Homo sapiens: one gene and its partner. The protein of the gene in region 1 purifies or fractionates together with the protein of each later gene. This does not show direct contact. Each region holds a gene or a part of one and is shown on either strand. Other genes may lie near its edges.

Region 1 (7,327 bases):
TTCTCCCCCTGAGGCTGCCACTTGAAAGTTGAAATCTAGCAAGATTGTAATGGTAGGTACCAGCTTTCTGAATTACAGGGTGACTGCCTGGGCTGATCCTAAAAAGCAAGTGTCTTTTTTATACCGCATAAAAGGCTGAAATGTTTACATATCAAAAGGCTATAGGCCAATTTCTGTCAAAATTACACATGAAGTTAAGCAGTACAAGCAATTTATTTAAACACTAGTCATTGTAGAAAAATTCAAAACCATATGCTCTTTAGCAGTTTTTCACAAATGCATTTGACCCATGACTTGGCTAGACATACAAGCTTCATAATTTACTCTAAATTTCAAATCCCCTTGACGTTTAAATAAAAGATCTTCATTAATGAGGTTTACATGAATGAAAACTTTAGAAGCAGATATCAGTTAGCGAAGGGCTTCGTTCTAATTTTCAAATGACTGACTTTGCTAATCATTTCAAGAGAAACTTCTTCTGAGAACAAATTATCGTCATTTGCATTCTGTGACTTGCAAAAGCAAAGGTGCAGTCATTTTGAAACAAATTTTGGTAAATAGCCCGGCTGAAATCGGATTTCTGCAACCCCGGAAAGTCCAAGCTATTTATTTATTTATTTATTTATTTATTTATTTTTCTAAGGCCTTGGGAACACGTCATTTTTCGATAGCCCCTTCTTCTCTTCTCTTCTCTTCTCGTCTCTTCTCTTCTGTTGAGCTTCCCTAACACCTTGATTATTTCGTCCTTAGGGGATCGGGTGCTTTTATTTGGAGCGTTGGAAAACTTCTAGCAAAAAATCAGCTAGAAAGCTCCCTTACGCCCTCCGCTCCGAAAGCAGGAGACCCAGCTCTAATGCGCGCTGCCCCTTAGCCAGGAGGCATTTGCGCCTCTGGCTCTACTCCACCCACCCAACCTCACACGGACAATCCCCTGGGGCTACCGGAGATGTCCTCCAGAAAGCAGCAGAGCCATGGAACGGGGTTTGAGCACTTAGCTTTGAGACTGGATTTTTTAAAAGTCCCAATACAAACAACACAACCATTCCGCTCAGTGAGGACGGCTGAGGTCTCGGCGCAGCACGCGGGCTGCAGGGGGCTCTGCGCATTGCTCCTAATTCCTCTGACCCCGCTAATGCGCCCTCCGATGAGGGCTCCGTACCTTGAAAAGGACACACCGGCTTTTTGCACATGACACGAAAAATCCGACTTAAACGCATCCGATTGTGAACTCTGCTCTGTGGCCGGGCAGGAGACGGAGAGAATTAAGAAAGTTCCTGAAACGAACCGTAAGAAGTTGGGGTCGAAGATGCATTATTTTTTTACAGTTATGCGGAATGGGGTGTAAGGATAGTGGGGCGACAGTTTTCTCCCTGACAAAAATACCTTGGGGCGGGAGAAGATACTCACACGCATACTCCAAAGTTGGACACTGTTTTAAATCAGAGAAGCAATTTAATCTACACTCTATGAATCAATTTAGTGATGACCGCAGTGCAAAAGCGCCGTGACAGATGCCGAACGGCAAATAGACCTTATGCATGTGGAATCCGCTGAGCTATTCTTTAATATCTTAAAAATGAGGACTATTACTGGGGCGAGTGACTCCTCAACAAACACATTTTCATAGACTTCTGCGTGGTGATTGCTTTGTGTGAAATCGTGTTTGGGTGATAATAGGGAAAATCAGCGGCATGTTTACTGCATTTCCGACCTAAGCGCTCGCCGGCTGCCTCTGGACGCTCGCGGTCCTCCCATGCTGAGCTGTGCGTGCGGGGCCGACAAACAATCGCTTAGCAACACGAGGTGGACAATTTGCGTGCGTCGCATTTGTTATTCCAATTGCGCCAGGCGATGCGGGGCCCTGATGGTTTGTTTAGCACGTTGAGGACACTTGTGAGTTTCCGCCCGCCGAGGCGCAGTGCGAGCACCGAGCGCCGACTGCCTTTCCCGGGGCCTGCCTCCGCGCGGCTGCAGATTGAAGGGGCAACCCGATGGGGGAGGTCCCGCCGCGCAGGGGTGAGCTCCCCTAGAGCTCCGGCAGAGTGTCTGGAGCTGTGTGGCCTTGGGGTTCCTGTGACCCCCTTCCCGGAAAGTCCCCTCTGCGGCAGCACTCGCTTTTCCTTATTTTAGACCCAGCTGATGTAGGAACCCTGTCCTTGTCTGGGGGCGGAGGTGGGGACAGCACACTCCTTTGTCTCAATGAAAAATAAACAAGAAAATGCCCCCAAGTTCATCCCCAACCTCCTTGGCGAACGGATGACAATTACCAAGTCTCATTAAATGTTAGGGTTGCAAAGGGACCCAATGAATGTTGGTGTTGGTTTGATCAACTAAAATCCTGAGGCCTCCAGAGAAGGGATGATTTGCAAGGTGGCAAGGTTGGGTCTGCAACTCTGACGCTCAGATTCTGTACAGGGCTCAGCTGGTACAGCGGAGGGCTGCAGGAAAGCACAGGCGCAGTATAGCAGTTTGCTAAACCTGGTTATTAAAAAGAACAATGTTCCAGGTGGAAGGGGAGACGGAGGGGTGTGTGGAGGTGGTTGTCTGATACTTTTAAAAACATGGAGACACTTTTTTTAGGTCTGCGGTTGAAATCTTGACACTCTCCTGATTTGGCATCTTTGCAAGAACAGGACGAGGAATCTGCCCCAAGCGTCAGGTGGCACTTGTGCCTCTGCCCGGCTCAGACAAAGGTCTTAAAAGATCCACTCACACGCGCACCGCAGCGCACACCCAGCCTCCAACACAAACGCAGGCAGTCACTGATAAGTTGCAGCCTCTAGTTGTCGTCCATCAACTGCCCTGTAGCTTTAAACCTGGGAAAGATTGGTGGGGGAGTATCTGCCCTGGAGCATGGTGACTTAAGTCTCTGAGAACGGAACAACAATAAAAAAGACTTCATCCTAGTCAGTGGGAGATGGAAGGTGCCTCACTTCTTACCCTAGACCTGACCTCTCTAAGGGGAGGGTCACACTCCCTCTTTGTTTTTATTGTTAAAAAAGAAAAAAAGGAAAACTCTATTCACTTCCCCAAATTGAGACCCATCTCCGTCATGTCCTAATCCCCATTTACAACCACCTCTAGTTTGCGCAGCACTGGAAGGAGCAACTCTCAGGCCACAAGCTGGTGGCCGTGAGGACACAGAGGTCCACGCTGGGAGGCCTAGGAGGAGAAACGTCGCCGCCTGGCTCCACTGGGCCGCTTCTGCGCGCCGCCACAGTAGTGCCCTCGGACAGGACTAAACCTCCGTGCAATGGCTCTTTGAAACCCGAACAGAAATTGACAAGTGGGCTTTCCCCTTTGCCCCTGAGCCGGGGAGTGGGCAGCCCACTTACTTAGCCTTACGGCGGCGACTTCAGACAACTTTGCGGGGTCCCTTGGTTAATTAGCCTGAGAGAAATCGCGAAAAATAGGTGTGAGTTAAAGGCGGACTTCCTTCAGGAAACCCGAGGTCTCCCGCAACCCCATCTCCCTCTCCGGCTCTCGGGGGTATCGCCTGGGTCGGGTACTGCCCCTTCCCCTGGAGTGGCCTGAGTTGCAAGCCGGGAGCTTGCACCCGGTCCACAGGATCTGGGGGACTGCTTTTGTTCCGCGCGTACCGTCGCCTACCTTCTCGAAGGGCGCTCGGCCGCCTGCTTGCCGTGAGTGGTGGGCTGGCTGCGCCTCCCGTGGCTCGGGCAGGCTGGCCGTGCCATGCCGAGAATCCCGCAAATCATCGCGGCCGCCTGCCGCTATCAGACCCGGCCATCGTCCAGGCCACTGCGGCCCAGGGAATCCACTCTGGGCCTGCCAGGCGGAAGGGCAGGCCTACCGGCAGCCAGCAGGTCGTAAGGAAAAATGCGACCCAATTATTGGGGAAGAAGATAGGGAAGTCCCAAAGACCCCATCTGGATTGAAAATCAAAAAAATAGTTTGGGAGAGAAGGCACCACATTTCCAAAACTAATTTTTTAAAAGCACAAAAACTACCGACACCCACGCTGGGAGCAGCTAGAAGCACCGCTTCAGACTGCAACTCTTGGTGGCGAATTTTAAAGAGCGGCTGAATTTGGTCTTCGCTGTGTAGGACCTAGGGACTGCCATGGTAGTTTTCAGACCCAGAGTGGCTGGAAAAAAAAATCTTTTTAAGAAGCACGATGCACCCCTCCTTTAGTCGTTTTTGCCTTTACAAAATTTGGATTTTACAAAACCAAAAGTTTTTTGGGGGGGTTAACAAGTTCCATTCGGGAGAGAAACTCAAGATTTAAAAAAGAGGTAAATCAGGCGGTGAGTACGTGGGGGCGCGGAGGAGTGGTGGAATTTTCAATCCTGCTTGAGAGGGGATGCAGCCCCTCACATTTTCTAAAACAAAACCAATTCCGAAAGGGGGAAAAAAGTAGCCCCAAAGTAAAATCGTCCACAATGAATTTGAGCTACAGGCAGAGGAAATCGCACCCAATAATAGGACCCAATCTGAGAAAAAAGGGTGGGGGTGGAGAGCTCGGGCGGAGGGAGTTGTTAACTGCGGCGGCACAAAGGAATTAATGAGATTAACCAAGGCAATTAGGCCGCCCGCCCAGCTCGGCCGGCCCGCGGCCCGGCTGCCGAATGGAAAAGATTAGGTTAATTTCATTAATTCGCAATCCACAATCTCTTTTCAGGCCTTGTAACCCCCTCCCCTTGGCACCTCTCCCCCTCCCCCCAACCCTCTTCCCCCACCCAAAGGAAAAGAAAGGGCCAAATCTGGTTCTGTTTGTCATCTGCATATTACCAGGAACTAAATCCAGGATGACGTCGACTCAGTATAAAACCAACAAGAGGTTCAGCTGGTCTGAGCTCCGTCCTACCCGCGGGTTGAGTTCAGCGAACGCTGCGGCTAGGGGAGGGCGGGAGGAGGGAGAGCGGACGCAGGGGGCGGGGAGGGGCGCAGGGCTGCGCGCTCGCCGGCGCTCTCTTTCGGTTTGGTCGGCGGCTGGAGGAGAGTGGACCCCCCCACTTTAAGGCTCTGTCCTCGGCGCGTTCCCGCCGCCCCCCGGTCCCGACGCGGGGCTCGGGGATGCCCGCCAGCATGTTCAGCATCGACAACATCCTAGCCGCCCGGCCGCGCTGCAAGGACTCGGTGTTGCCGGTGGCGCACAGCGCGGCGGCTCCCGTCGTCTTCCCGGCCCTGCACGGGGACTCGCTCTACGGCGCCAGCGGCGGCGCCTCCTCGGACTATGGCGCCTTCTACCCGCGCCCCGTGGCCCCCGGCGGCGCGGGCCTCCCGGCCGCGGTCAGCGGCTCCCGCCTCGGCTACAACAACTACTTCTACGGGCAGCTGCACGTGCAGGCGGCGCCCGTGGGCCCGGCCTGCTGCGGGGCCGTGCCGCCGCTGGGCGCCCAGCAGTGCTCCTGCGTCCCGACGCCCCCAGGTAGGGTCGCGCTCGCTCCGGCCTCTGCCGCCCACTGCGGTCCTTAGCCCATGGAGCCGGTTGGTTAATTCACCTTCCTCAAACTTTGCTCCTCTTGCAACTCCCCCCTCCGCTTTTGCCGATCGGGCGCAGGAGTTTGCAAACTTCTTGCTGCAAACTTTTGGCCAGAGTTCGCGAAAACTGGAATTCAGTGCCTGCCCGGGGAAACTGGGTTTTGTTTTGTTTTGTTTTGTTTTGAATTCTCTTACTGGCTTTGGCGGGTGTGCGGATGGATGCTCTAACACGCCTCCTCCTTTTCCCTGCACCCCTGATTCCCGTGCACCCCCAATTCTCAGCATCCCCTTGCAGACGACTTCTAAGTGGAAGAGGGTCGGGGGCTGGCGGGCGTGCATGCGTGCGGTGGCGAGGGCGGGCGGCTGACCGTGCGCCCCACTCTGTCGCAGGCTACGAGGGCCCCGGTTCGGTGCTGGTGTCCCCGGTACCGCACCAGATGCTGCCCTACATGAACGTGGGCACGCTGTCGCGCACCGAGCTGCAGCTTCTCAACCAGCTGCACTGTCGGCGGAAGCGGCGGCACCGCACCATCTTCACTGACGAGCAGCTCGAAGCTCTCGAGAACCTCTTCCAGGAGACCAAGTACCCGGACGTGGGCACGCGCGAGCAGCTGGCCCGGAAAGTGCACCTCCGCGAGGAGAAAGTGGAGGTAGGCGCCGGGGCCTGCCGTGGGCGCCTAGCGGTCCTTCCCCGCGAGGTGGGGCCCCAGTCGGGTTTGCCCAGCCCTGCTTGGCTCTCCCCGCACTTTAAAAACATCCCGATGGCGGCCCGCAGGCTGCTGGAGGGCGCTTTAGGCCCAGGAAGTTGAATGAAAACGCGGAAGCGGGAGCGAGCGGCTCCCCTCCTTTTGTTGGCCTGCGCGGGGTGTCCCGCCGCCACACCAAGCTCCCCGGGTGCCCCGGGACTGGGGGAAGCGCGCCTTTGATCTGAACTGTTTTGTCCTCCGTTGCGCAACAGGTCTGGTTTAAGAACCGCCGCGCCAAATGGAGGCGGCAGAAGCGGTCCTCATCAGAGGAGTCGGAGAACGCGGAGAAGTGGAACAAGACGTCGTCGTCGAAGGCGTCACCGGAGAAGAGGGAAGAGGAAGGTAAAAGCGATTTGGACTCGGACAGCTGACGGCCGCGGGACACTTGCCCGTATTACTTACCTAACTCGAAGGACTTGCACAGACAGACGATGCTACTTTCTTGCACACGCGCTGCCTTGCGGGAGGGGGTCGAGAAAGAGGAACGAGGAGCTGTAAATAGTGTACAGAGCCGGGAGGGTCGGCGTCTGGGGTCAGGGCGCGCACAGCCCAGCAGCCCGAGGCCGCCCGCGACTAGCCCCCACCGTAGTATTTATAGTTAAATTAAGGGTGACAGTACAATAAAGTGATGGCGATGTAGACGGGCCACATTCTGTATTTCATACCCCCCGCCCCACCCACCCACCACCATCAGTCTGGAGCCAAGAAAAGAAGTCTATGTAGTCCGTAACCTCCGGAGGAAAAAACTGAGCAGCTATGATCTACCTAAACAAACAAACAAACAAGAAATGAAGCTCTGGGTAACAGTCACAGCATGGGTGTCCTGGTTTAAAAGGAAACCTTATGTCTAGGAAGGTTTGGAGAGTAGCATTGCTGGGCCAGAGCCGGGAGGAGGTACCATTGCAGTTGAGAGGGGCAGCCTGGGTCCCTGACTCCCCTCTGCCGAGGGCAGAAGGAGCACTTCTTCCCTCACTGATGAGGTGGGAGCTAGGGGAGTCCGGGAGCTCCCACGGAGCCCACTGCTCCAAGCTGCTCAGCCCTGCTTCTGAGAAACCTAAGGCGGCGGGTCCACGGGGGAATTAGGCAGCGGGCATGCCACCTCCCCCAGCGCTTTCCTGGAACTTCCACAGATGCTCCAG
Region 2 (7,034 bases), on another chromosome or scaffold:
GCGGGAGTGGATCAAGTTTGCCGCAGCCTGTCGAGAAGGAGAGGACAACTCGAAGAGGAACCCCATTGCCAAAGTAAGTGATGAAGCAATCTGATGACAAATGCTTTTGCAGAGCAGGGAAGCTTTCAAATATCTCCAAGATTTGCAGGCTTCACTGCTCCACAGTTATTTAAGAAGACAGAATGTGGTCATTTGCTCCAGTTGCTGAGCCACTGATTTGAATATCATGTGCAGGGAGGCTGACGTGGGGCAGGCAGTCAATGGCAAGTGATTCTAGAAGAAAGGGCTGGATCTCCAGCACAACTGGGCTTTGTTCATCCATTTGTGTACTGCTCATTATTGCCTGTCAATGTCATAGGAAACGTATTCACATAGTGACAGTCTGAAGCCTGGCCCTCCAGAAAGTCAAGCCAAGTTTACTGCACTAGATGAATTAACTCCAGGAAAGTAAGGATAGTATCAAAAGTTCCCACCAGATCTCTACATCCAGAAAATAAGAGAGTCTTATAAGACTTTCACAAATAATGCCTACTGAAAAGGAAGGAGAGTTAAAGAATGTGTAATAAATTGATCCAGGAAGGATGGGATCCACATTAATAGCTTCATTCACTCTTTCTGGACATCTTGATCCTGAACAGTAAAGTGATCTGCAGAATTCCCTCCTTCCAGCTTTATATTAAAAACATAGTAAGCATCAGCAGTGGTGTTACAGATACAACCTCAGCTCAAGAAAACAGATGTATTCTCTCTCAGATGTTTTCAAATTGGAGGGACGCTTTTAAATTATTATTTCCATTCAACTCAGTAATTGCTTTATGTTATTCCACTTATATTGCATATTCTTTTCTTTTTCTCTGCATTTTGGGAGGTTCTTGAGTTTTCTTCTATGTAAAAAGGGCCTTTGGATTAGAGTTAAGCTAACCAAAGTTCTATTTCCAGCAGTCTTTATTTGACTGTGAATGTGTGGGTAAAAAATCTTACTATTTTACTGAATGCTCTTATCGTTAGTATATAGGTGAGATTTCAAAATTGTTTCAGTTTAAATTTATCAGCAATAGGTAATAAAGCTACTAAAGCAAAATCTGTGTGGCAGAATATTTGCCATAAAATCTATTTGGCAGAAAAGTGATGCAGTATGTTTACATTTATAAAATTATTACAAATATCTCTAACCATTATAGTTTTCTGATATTCTCAACTTATCTACCATTTTGACTAAATCTCAGACTCCAGCTTAGGTAGGATACTTATTAATATGACACAAGTTATTTTTAAAAAATAGTAAATGTTGTAATTTCTTTTGTGAAGCTATTTCTGCGTATGCTAAAAAATCAGAGAATTGAACAATGTGTTATTAACAACAAACCTAGCACCAAGTGTGTATGTTATACACATTACCTCATGTAATTCCCACAACAAATCTGTGTGATATTATCCCCACTGTAAGCTGATCTGGGCAAAGTTAAGTAAATTTTCCAGGGTCACACAGGACTAAGTCATGGTGTCAGGTTTCAATCCAAAGCCCATTTGGTAAAGAAACCCACTCCCTTCTTATTCCACTACACTCTTAAGCATTATCTGCTCTAAACTGGATCACAATCCTAGCTATTTTTCTTATAGATTCGATCAGACTGCGAATCGAACCAGAAGATAACATACCGGATTTCTGGAGTAGGGATTGATCGACCACCATATGGGGTATTCACCATTAATCCTCGCACTGGGGAAATTAACATCACTTCAGTGGTAGACAGAGAAATAACTCCACTTTTCTTGGTAAGTCATAGCCATATGTTTTGATTTGTTCATATTAGTTTTCTTCCCTTTTTCAAAAAATATTATCTTAAGATAATGGATTACTTTTGATAAAACATGGCAGACTGAACCCAAATAGAAGACTTGAAGGAATGGAAAGAGTGTGAAAATAAAAGTTTATAGTTCAGGATTCTCTGGTATGTTGCATGTACATGTAGTCAAGTGTCCTGATCATATTTAAATTATTTGACTGTACTACAGTCTGAATTCACTGGAAAAAATTGTTTCTTTGCCTATTTTCTGATATATTTTCAAGCATGTTACTAAAATTCCTTTGGTGGAAAAAGATGGCTTTTTTCCAATTTTCCACAGATCTATTGCCGGGCTCTGAATTCACGGGGTGAAGATTTAGAAAGGCCTCTTGAGCTTAGAGTCAAAGTTATGGACATAAATGATAACGCTCCAGTCTTTTCGCAAAGTGTATACACAGCCAGCATTGAAGAAAATAGTGATGCCAGTAAGTAGAATGACATTCCTTCTCTACGTCACAGCATATCTACTTCTCTTGGTCAAAAGCTTTAGAGGACTGACATACAGGAAATGTAAAGGACAGAAAAAGCCACACTTGTATTTTGAATAAACCCCACATATTTTAATTTATAACTGAGCTAGAAAAAGAAATCATGTCTAAAATGATAAAATAAAATATCTTCTTACTTGCGGAAGGTCCCTACAGGGATTTAGCAGGTGCTTAGCACCTTGCTTAAAGATTGCTACTGGGCTCATGAAGAACTAAATCCAAGCGAGCAAACTGAGGAATAAACCAGGAATGTTTAAGAAGGCTCTGTTCTGGTCTCTTACTCAAAATGTTTGGCTGACCCACACCAGGTAGAGCGTGATGGTGGAAGCACACGCAATTGTACCCATCAGATCAATCACTAAGGGTAATCATTGATCTTCACAGACTACATAGCAAACTACATTCTATTCTCTCATTTTCTTTCATTTCTTTCCATTCCACTTAATTCCATTTCCAGTTCTAATACCCTCTGTCTTTCCTTTATATTAATTCTCCTGAACTTCTTTCCTTCCTACTCTTATGCTTTTCTTATATGGCTACTTTCCTATCTCTCCTCTCCCTTTGCCTTCTGACCTTGATTTTACATACAGCACATGAATATCAGTTTGTTCCCCAAACCCCTGTTGTCCCTTTCCCTTTCAAATCTATGTCTGCCCATATACCTCTAAACAAATTTGGGGGGAAATAATAGGAAAAATAAATTTCAGGAAAAAAGGCAGATAAACACAAAATTTTTTTTTGAACTAGGATAGTCCTCCCATAGAGAGGCAAAGAGATTTTGCCTAGGAGAGCCAACACAAAGAGAGACTCCGAAGTCCATCTTTGCTTCCTCATCAACACACCTCAAAACAACACTGGTGAAGGAAGAGAAGGTGAAACCCACAACCAAGTCTCCCTGCCTAGGAAGCAAAAGAACATCAGGGACCTGACAATTCTGAAAAGTCTGTCCTGTAGATTGACATCCTTGGGGATTTGCCTAAGATACCTGTTCTTTCTACCTATGAGTAATTAGGAACTTCTTATATTGCTATGGACAAGTCTTCTTTTCAATAATTATAAATTTGTGACTGTTTGGTAAAATGCTATCTTCCAATGCAACCAAGAGTAATTATCTGCTTTCTGGAAAAGTGGCAATTAAGAATATAGGTGTTCAATACATAATTATAATGTTGCATTTAATTAAACTATAATTTTCCTTAATTAAGCATTTTTAAATGATTTCACAAGACCATGGCAAAAAATAAAACAGATAAAAATCTGTTTATTCAGCTATATGATAAAGAATCTATTGAACTTCTTTTTCGTACTTTAAAGAGAACTATGTTTAGCCACTAATTTAGTATTTAATCATTTAAGGAGTGCAAGTACTTTTAAAACAGTAAAGGGTTTTATAAAGCAAACCACATTTTTTTTAATCACTGGTAGAGCTGAAAGTTATGGTACTATATTCCCATGGAAAACTCAAACAGAGAGAATTCAGGAGAAGGCCAACCACTCTGTCTTCTTATGCCTAATGATTTGCTGAATTTATTCTAAGAGTCCCAACCATTCTCCACCTCCATTTCTATTTCTAGATACATTGGTAGTAAAGTTATGTGCCACAGATGCAGATGAAGAAAATCATCTGAATTCTAAAATTGCCTACAAGATCGTCTCTCAGGAGCCATCAGGTGCACCCATGTTCATTCTGAATAGGTACACTGGAGAAGTCTGCACCATGTCCAGTTTCTTGGACAGAGAGGTAAAGCCTTCTGTGAATGAACAAGAACTAAAAAATTCAATTTTGAAAAGACAAAGATAAAATGATCCATGTGTACCCTTACTCCAATATAAAGGAGGGAAGAAAAATAATCCATTTTTAATAAAAATTAAAAGCTCAATTATATAAATTTCATTGGATATGTAAATAAAAGAGTAGAGAAATAATGGCATTGAATGCATTGGATTCTATTCAAGACAAAACCTAAGTCTTACGTTCTTTTTCATCTTGATTAAGCAACACAGTATGTACAACCTGGTTGTGAGAGGCTCAGATCGGGATGGAGCTGCAGATGGACTGTCTTCTGAGTGTGACTGTAGAATCAAGGTTTTAGACGTCAACGATAATTTCCCCACCTTAGAGAAAACTTCAGTAAGTTTGTATTCTTATCTTCCTTTTTCCATAAGTGTCAATAATCAATTTGCATAAGTGTCAATAATCAATCATGCTGGCTCATGAGCCTGGTTCTGTCCTATGTGTGGACATACTCAACTTTGTTATAGAAACTTTGGAATTTCTTATGTATACTAATATACCTTCAAATTGTATGTTTGTCTTTGACTCACTACTCCAAACAAGCCTTCTCTGTGAAAGCAACGAACTATCTATTCTGTATACTCTATTCACAGAAACACAGAAATCTGTTGATCTAACTCTGGGAATAACATAGCAACATTAATGTTTTTGTATATGCCTCATGATTTGCTGAATGAATTCTACTAGAGTCCCAGACAGTCTCAACTTCCATTTTCATCTCTAAGCATAAAGAAGCATAAAATCCACACTAGCAGGGCCAAATCTGGCTTGCTGTCTGTTTCGGTTTAAAAAAAAAAACAAAAAAACAAAACAAAAAACGTGTTATTGGAGAGCATAGCTGTCCTCATGCCTTTACATATTGTCTATGGGGGCTTTGTGCTGCAACAGCAGACGTGAGGGGTTGCAACACCAATTCTCTGGCCCACAATATCTAATATATTTACTATTCAGCCCTTTACAGAAAAAAATCTGGTCCTCTATCTAAAAGAAAAGAATAAATAAAGAAAATTAACAATAAGCAAAAATAAATAAATAAATAAAAGAGAAAGGAACAAAGTGCTAATTTGACCTTGATTTTACATACAGCACATGAATGTCAGTTTTATTATCTTATAATCATTTTATTCTTATTCTCCTGATTGGACTATGGGCATTTAATAATGGTGCAAAAATCATCGACATAGTTTGTTGTTAGTATTTTAAATAATAATAATGTGTTTTAAGTACGTTTCTTCTTTTGAAAATTCATTGACTACAAAATTGATCCTTGCATTTTAGTACTCAGCCAGTATTGAAGAGAATTGTTTAAGTTCGGAACTGATACGATTACAAGCAATTGATCTTGATGAAGAAGGCACTGATAACTGGTTGGCTCAATATTTAATTCTCTCTGGAAATGATGGGAATTGGTTCGATATTCAAACAGATCCACAAACCAATGAAGGCATTTTGAAAGTTGTCAAGGTACAGTATAAGGATCTGCAATATTTTCTTCCAAAATATTTTATTCCAAAGAAGTTTTAAATGACCTTAGAGACAGAATCTGCCTTTAAAAAAAAGTACTTCATAACTTTGAATATTGTTTATATCAAGGGTCCTAAGTAACTGCTATGTCAGTCTGAGTCTCCTAGCTAGCAACACAAAACTTATTACCAAGAAAAATATGAAGACTGTTTTGTTCTGACAGTGTCCAATATCTAGTTGTGAAGATAAGGTAAGCAACCCCAAATTAGAAGATATATGGGAGTTCACAGTGCAATAAATAATACAGATGTCATGATATAAAACATAATTAATTGCCAAGGGAGTGGAATATGAAATAATGAAAGAGATAAGAAATGGTGAGATCCTTCTGAGCTAGATTTGTCTGAAAAGATTTCATGCAGGAAATAAGGCTTAAGCAAGATGTTATAGCTAAGATTGCTAATGTGGGTAATAAAATAAACAAACACAGAGTGAGAAAACATGAAGCAAGTTCAGGGCATGGTGAGCAACCCCGTGGGGCTGTAGTGGGGCATCAAGTAGGGAAGTAATCAGAAGTCAGATCAGAGAAGTGAAGCTGAAATCGATCTGCTGAGAACCTTGCATACTGAAATACCGGCTTTGATTTTTTTCTATAGATTAATTTTTCTTTAATTACTTGCTTTTAATTCACAGACAATGATAAAACTGAAAAATTTATAATTAGAAACGAATAAAACCACAAACCAATAAGATTCAGATTAACATTACTGTAATGAGGGAAATTGTTATTTTTTAACAAAGGAAATTGCTGCTAACAACATAAACAACACTTATAGCCAGGAAAATATATATTAAGACATATATGTACACACATATTTTTAGCTTACTACACAGTGTGATTGTGGAATTTACAGTGTGATTATTCAGTTCTGTTACTATTTTTCTCTATTCAAGCACATAAGGCTCTTTTTGTGTTACCATAAAGTAATAGCTGAGACTGGGTAATTTATAAAGAAAAGAGGTTCAGTTGAATCACCATTTTGCAGGCCATACAGGAAGCAAAGTGCCAACATGTCCTTCCAGTGAGGGCCTCAGGAATCTTACAATCATTGTGGAAGGCAAAGGGGGAGCCAGTGCATCACATGACAAGGGCAGTAGCAGAAGAGAGAAGGGGGAGGTCCTAGACTCCTGTAAACAACCAGATCTCGCAAAAACTCATTTATCACCAAGGCTATGGTGGTAAACCATTCGTGAGGGATCTGCCCGATCACCCCTCACCAGGCCCCACCTCCAACTTTGGGAATCACATTTAAAGATGAGATTTGTGGGTGACAGACATCCAAACCATATCATCAAGTTACTGTGAAGTTTTTTCAGATAGCATATTAGGAAGCCATTTAGCCTTCTGGAAGCAAACATATCGTTTATTCATTGGGTCTT

The links.
Region 2: the proteins of GSC (region 1) and DSG4 purify together in Homo sapiens (affinity purification with mass spectrometry; 2 studies listed by BioGRID and IntAct, with this or other methods). This does not show direct contact.

What each region holds. Positions count from the first base shown.
Region 1 is NC_000014.9:94,767,723-94,775,049, reverse strand, and holds GSC (homeobox protein goosecoid), read left to right. Parts: upstream 1-4,936; 5' UTR 4,937-5,034; coding exon 5,035-5,389; intron 5,390-5,832; coding exon 5,833-6,092; intron 6,093-6,400; coding exon 6,401-6,559; 3' UTR 6,560-6,827; downstream 6,828-7,327. UniProt on the Homo sapiens protein: Regulates chordin (CHRD). May play a role in spatial programing within discrete embryonic fields or lineage compartments during organogenesis.
Region 2 is NC_000018.10:31,386,747-31,393,780, forward strand, and holds part of DSG4 (desmoglein-4 isoform 2 preproprotein), read left to right. Parts: coding exon 1-73; intron 74-1,620; coding exon 1,621-1,776; intron 1,777-2,127; coding exon 2,128-2,272; intron 2,273-3,909; coding exon 3,910-4,076; intron 4,077-4,331; coding exon 4,332-4,466; intron 4,467-5,408; coding exon 5,409-5,594; intron 5,595-7,034.